Linked DNA regions of Homo sapiens: region 2 is linked to region 1. Evidence: fine-mapped expression QTL. A gene starts in region 1. The other region holds a variant in brackets. All regions are shown on one strand. Distances are from middle to middle.

Region 1 (2,906 bases):
GAGTCCACGGATACAGAGGATGCACTGATAACTGTATTATTTCTTCCAACTTGCATAAGAAGAACTGAAACTTAAAGAGGTGGTACCAACCTGCTCAGAGTCACACAATTCTGGCTTTTTGTGATATAAATACACGCTTTTAGGCAATATACTAGTGGCCTCCAAACGTTTTGTACTTGCACCCATTAAGCAAAAGAAATTTGAAATACATGTTCCAACATAAAATTAATACCCTATGTTTCACGTAGAAATCAAATGAAATAAATCTAAATAGAAGTTCTAATATGTTCCCTCTCTACCCACACACCCATGGAACAAACTGCATGCCACTGTATATACTATTGTACATGTTAAAAGATCACACTGCAACCATATAAAAGTCAGGAGATTTGGGTTTTTCTTTTTTCCTTTGAATATATATTACTGAGAAGTTTGCCTTTAAAACACTGGCTTTTAATCTACTACTCGTGACATATGCAGAGTAATAAGCGCTCACAAAACTTCTGTCTTGAGGGCTCAAACACCAAATGATTGCTCTAAGAATTTTCACAGTATTACCTCAAACCCTATTGGTTCTACAACCTTTCTCTACCCTAGAGTCCTGTTTTCCGCAATTCCCAATTGGGATTCTTCTCCGGTTCATTTCTGTAAGAAATGAGGGCAGAGAAATGCCATCAGTAAACCTTTGAACACATGTTAATTTTTCTAGGTAATACAATTTGCATTTTCGTAAAACTGGGCTTTAATGACAAATCCGATTTCAGTGATCTTTGCATACACCCTTTAAACACACCAGTTGCCGCCTGCGAGATATCATCAGACTCATGCTAAGAGCCACTCCCTACCCCAGCTTTCCCCAGACCTCTCCCCGCTTTACAGTTATTCGCCACAGCCCGGGAGAGTCTGGGGACGGCCGCCTGGGAGGGGACGGCCGCCTGGGAGGGGACGGCCCGGAGCAGACGCCAGGTTTCCCGCGGCTCAGGAGACCGGTGCCGCCTCGGAGAGCGCGCGAAGGTGCCGCCGGCCGCCCGACCCGCCCGAGGAACGGACATCTCCCGCCCGGGCCCGCAAGGACGACCATGAACACCGCCGCAGCTCAGCTGACCCTGCCTCTCCCGGGTGGCTGGGGGTCGCCAGCCAAGGGGGCAGCGGGCGGAGGATGAACCCCGGAGCAAGGGAAAGCGACAGCGCGCGCCTTCACCCTACCGCCAACAAGTCGAAGTCTCCCAAAGGAACCTGATCGGCGGGGCTGCCGTGGTACGACCGGCCGCTAAGGCCACCCTGCGGGCGTCTCGACCTCGGCTGACCGCCGCTGGCCCCCTGGGAACCGCGTGCCGGCCGCAGGAGAAGGTAGATTCCCGGGAGCCCCGGCGCCCACCGCGGTACTAACCGCGCCTGCGCCCCGCCCTCCCTCCCTTCGGGCTCCGCCCGCGCCTGCGCAGTTGCGGGGTTTCGCGCCGCCGGAGTCTGAGAGGCCGGAAGTGCCCCTTAGCGGGTGGGGGAAGCTGGTAGGCACGGGCGGCTCCGCAGTGACCGGACTCGGGGGAGGTGAGTGATTTGCCTAAGTAAAAGGGAAAGATAATTGAGCGCCCCCGGCAGCTGGTCTACGCATGCGTCCGCTAGGCCGGCTGGGAGCCGGCAAGGGAAAGCCGAGCGGGCCCCATTGGGGGAAAGGGGTCAGTCACTTCCCGGAAGAGGCGGGGCCGCGCGGGCCCGGCGCTGGATTCGAAACGCTTCCTGGTGCTCCTGGGCCTGGCGGTTGAGCCCGGGGAGCTAGTCTTTGCTTGGGTAAAGAAAGAGGACTTTCCTTTTTTTTTTTCCTTTTGAGAAAATTCAGAAATTTGGAGGCACAGTAGTTAGGATTCAGGCCAAACTGGTAAATGACGAAGGGGCTTCTTCCAGAGCCAAGGAGGAAGGGTTGTCCGGGTAAGTCCCGCGGGACGTGGAGAGACGGCGCCGCCCGGGTCCTCCCACTGATTCCTTTGACCATCTGGCTTACGGACGAGCTCTTTGTTCGCTGCTCCTCCGAAAACGCCTTCAATGACTCCCTTTGAATAAAGTAGGAAGTCCGAACCGAGCCGCCAGGCCGCGACTTGGCCCCTGTTTTCCACTCGCGAGGGCCCTGCGTCACCCCGCCTCGGGAAAGCTGCGCGTTCTCCGGCCGCTTGCGCTTGGCCGAAGCTGCTGGGTCCCGCTGTGCTTCCCCCGGGCATGCGATGGGGATAATTCCCACGCCTCGCTCAAAGCCATCCCGGGAGAGCCCTCCCTGGTCCCCATAGGCACAGTTGGGTGTTCCCTTTTCCGTGTTAACCTTGTATTTCGGATATAGTTCTGTTATAGTAATTACTTTAAGGTATTGTAGTTATTTACAATCAGTCTTTCCCCCACGGTAACCTAGAGTGTAAACCCCCTAAATAAACGTCAGAAGTAATGAAGTCTTAACTTCCTTGGCTTAGGTTTCAGCGCCCTTCTCAACCCCACACTCCCGCTTCAGTCTTTACACAACCCTTCCCATGAATATGCTGACCTAACAAGTAACCTACTTTTCATACTCCAAAATCTTCTCTTCTGTGTGGGGAAAATAATGCATTGACTGCCACCTCACTCCACCTCCAAATAAATTGATGTTGAAATTCTGGCCTCCGGTAATGGAATTCTTTACATCAAAGTCACTTTTTATTTCTAAAAGTAATCACATATATATTATATTCCTACTGTGGCCCTTGCCATGGATCAACGAAAAATATGACATAGTCAAAATAGACCAAAACATCTGGCCTTGTTGTAACCAATGGGAAACACGGTTGGGAGGTCCCTACTTACATGTCACTTGCTTCAGGAACCGTTCCTTGATTCCTAAGTGGGGGACCTTTTTTCCTAAATACAACTATAGCTTGCTTTCTTAC
Region 2 (2,906 bases), 39 kb after region 1:
CCTTTCTGTTGTGCACATATCAGCAAGATTAATCTATTGAAAACGCAAATCACATACTAACCACCCCCTGTGTAAAAGCGTCCCATGGCTTCTTATCACCCTCTGTAAATCCCAGCCTCCTCAGCAGCTGTGGCTACCTGTCTCCCTCACCTCATCCTCCGTCGCTTCCCCTTGCTCCCCTGGCCCTTGGCACATGGCTTGCTTTCTTTCCTTAAACATACCAAGCTTACTGTACACTCTGGCTCTTGCCATTGCTGCCCACTCTGTGTGGACTTCCCACAGACCTCTGGATGGTAAGCTGTTTATCACCACCGAGGTCTCAGCCTCTTGGCTAGTACTTTTGTGAGCACGTTAGCTAAGTAGCCACCTCCCACTCCTACCACCACTCCTTCACACTTGCCTCTCACCCTGTATTATTTTCTTTACAACTTATTAGATTTTTTTCTTTGTCTCCTATCACTAGAGTAACATAACAAGAGAATAAACTTTGCTTTACTCTTTGTTGTATTCCCAGAGCTTTGAACAGTGCCTAATATGCAGTATGCATTTAATACATACTTGTTCAATGAATAAATCAAGTTAGCTTTTCAACCCAAATCTATGTAAAGACAAAGCCCAGGCTTTGACCACGAACATGCTGCAATTTTTTATTGAATTCTTAAGATGGATTCAGTCCTGGGACAGGCATACTGCCAAGTACATGGGAAAACATCTGCTTCCTCCCTTCAAGATGTTTATAAGTTAGTTGTGATGCCAGACTCATTTATTCTTGAGATAACAAATACAGTAAGTGCTGAGTGAAGGGAAATGTATCAGAGGGCACCAGAATGTAGAAGAGAGTGGTCAGTGAAGATACAGGTGGTCCTTATAGGGCCTCCTAGAGCTGAGAAACTTGATAGGAGCCTTTTGTGGTGGATGCCAGTTAGGGGGAGGGTAAGACTGTCAGGTCTTGGATGAGACTTAGAGAATCAGTGAGTTTATCCAGGAAAGAGTCATCAATGACATGTGTTTTAGGGCATTCCAGAGAGGGACATTTGCTAGATACTTTTTTCTGGAAAAAAGCCTCACTCTTTACTTACAAGTATAGTTTTATGAGAAAACGCGGGCAAGAGAAGAGGAAAGGAGGAAAGAGAAAGCAAGGCAGTGAGGTTTCTTCTTTCTCACTCTGGCCATGGTTGTGGTAGGGGCAAGATGGATCGAGACTGGCACACAGTGAGTGCCAGATAATTATTGGCCCACTTACTCTTGAAGGTCTCCTCTGTGGGACTTTCCTGGAATTCCACGCTCTCTCCAGAAATAAATGGCCAACTGTGGGACCTAGGAGGCTACCTCTTTAGGGCCAGCAGTAAGGCAAAGCTGCCATGCAGCATAATCTGCCCAAGTGATTGGACTGCACAGACCCTTGGCCATTGGAAGAGACTGCACCATCCCAGAGTTTCCCAGAGGGCCACCATCATGAGGATTGCTCCTATCATGGCTCCCAGTGAAGGATAGAGCAAGGAGACCCCTGAGAACTAAATTGCCAGCCAGTGAAGATGACTTACTATGCTCAGAATTAACATTCATCCATCCACCACCCCATCCATCCATTCAGGAAGCAAATACTCTATGCCAAGAATCTTGCAAACTGTAGGAGCTATCACAAGGGTTAGATAGTTTCCTTTCCTTGAGGAACTCATGGTCTACTCATAAAGAAAACCATATGCTGTTAGTTTCTTAACTCTACCCATGTTTCCAGGGCAGAGTTGAATAAAAGATTTATCACATACCCAGGCTTGGCCACAAAACCACACCACAC[G/C]AAACCAAAACACTCCATGAAGGGAAAGACTAATTAACCTTCCCACCCCCCCACCCCTCAAGCCCTTCCCAGAGAGGTGATAATGAAAGATTTGGTCTCTACTGAGCCACAACAGGATTTGCATTTTAAAGTTTGACAGATCTTTATAGGCCTTTTGATCTCTTTTCTGCTCTCTACCTACCCACCCCAGACTTGCTGCCTCCTCCCAAACCCCCCTCAGTTCTCTACCCTGAACAAGCTATAAGCTTCAGAAATGATGGTCCCAGGTCCAGAGGCCTCTAGGATATGTGCCCTGGTGTAATGTGCTCCTAGCCATATAGCTCCTATTTATTGAATATCAGCTGTATATCAAGTACTTTTCTTCCTAACCCGCACAATCACCCTGCAAGGTTCATATTATTTACCTTTTTTTAAGTGAGGAGGAAAATGAGGCATGGAGGTTAAATAACCTGCTCCAAATCACTAATAAAAAGTAGGAGCGACAGAACTAAAACCTAGGTCTGTGCACCGCCAAACCTATAACCTTTTCATTAAGCCACACTGACTCCATTAGACAATACTGGTTATTGTAGGCTATCGTAACTAAATCCTTCTTGGAAAGGTAATCCTGCACTCCAGTTTTCTTGCAGGTGTTATTCTGGAAATAGCCCAATAAACGTCACAATTTGATTTACTCGAGGACAAACTTGCAGCTGTCTTTTCTTTTAGAGCTCTTCTTGAGCTCTGACTTTTTCCTCTCTTTCTACTCATCTTTCACACAGACTACTGCAGCCGGACAGCTGCATGTCTTGGTTTGGTACTGTCATCTGCAGCCTCCTGGGCTTTGTGGAACAGTCTCTCCAACCCAGAGAAAGCCTATTGGAAACAAACTCAGAGTCTCAGATACTTATATTTTTGCAGCTGGAGGGAACCCAGAAAGCCATCTAAAACTGAGTTTCAGAGAATGACTAGTGCAAAATAACTGGTATCAGATTTACTAAAATACTGCAGCTTTGCTATGTTAAAGTAAAAGAAGGAAACAAGTCACATTAACAAATATTTCAATGTGCCGGGTGCTTTATCTCATTTAATCTTCACTACAACCCAGTGAGGTAAAATTAGTTACTAT

Alleles and levels. Alleles are on the strand shown, and positions count from the first base shown. SD is a standard deviation of normalised expression in the study named.
With allele G in place of C in region 2, the expression in lymphoblastoid cells of the gene that starts at base 1,391 in region 1 is lower (small effect, 0.39 SD a copy in GTEx).

What was found. PIP is the estimated chance that this variant, and not a neighbour inherited with it, causes the effect.
Region 2: its variant is fine-mapped to the expression of SMC6 in lymphoblastoid cells (GTEx, PIP above 0.99).

What each region holds. Positions count from the first base shown.
Region 1 is chr2:17,752,420-17,755,325 of GRCh38, forward strand. It overlaps SMC6 (structural maintenance of chromosomes 6), which reads right to left and starts at 1,391. Exons shown (of 28, transcript NM_001142286.2): 1 at 1,207-1,391; 2 at 559-645. GEN1 (GEN1 Holliday junction 5' flap endonuclease) reads left to right here and starts at 1,719. Exons shown (of 14, transcript NM_001130009.3): 1 at 1,719-1,926. RefSeq lists silencers at 867-1,226, 1,367-1,506.
Region 2 is chr2:17,790,976-17,793,881 of GRCh38, forward strand. All of the region lies in intron 3 of LOC105373449 (a long non-coding RNA gene), which reads right to left. Among named protein-coding and RNA genes, the nearest start is that of MSGN1, 24 kb to the right of the region's middle. RefSeq lists a silencer at 587-881. The variant G/C (reference allele first, on the strand shown) is at 1,799.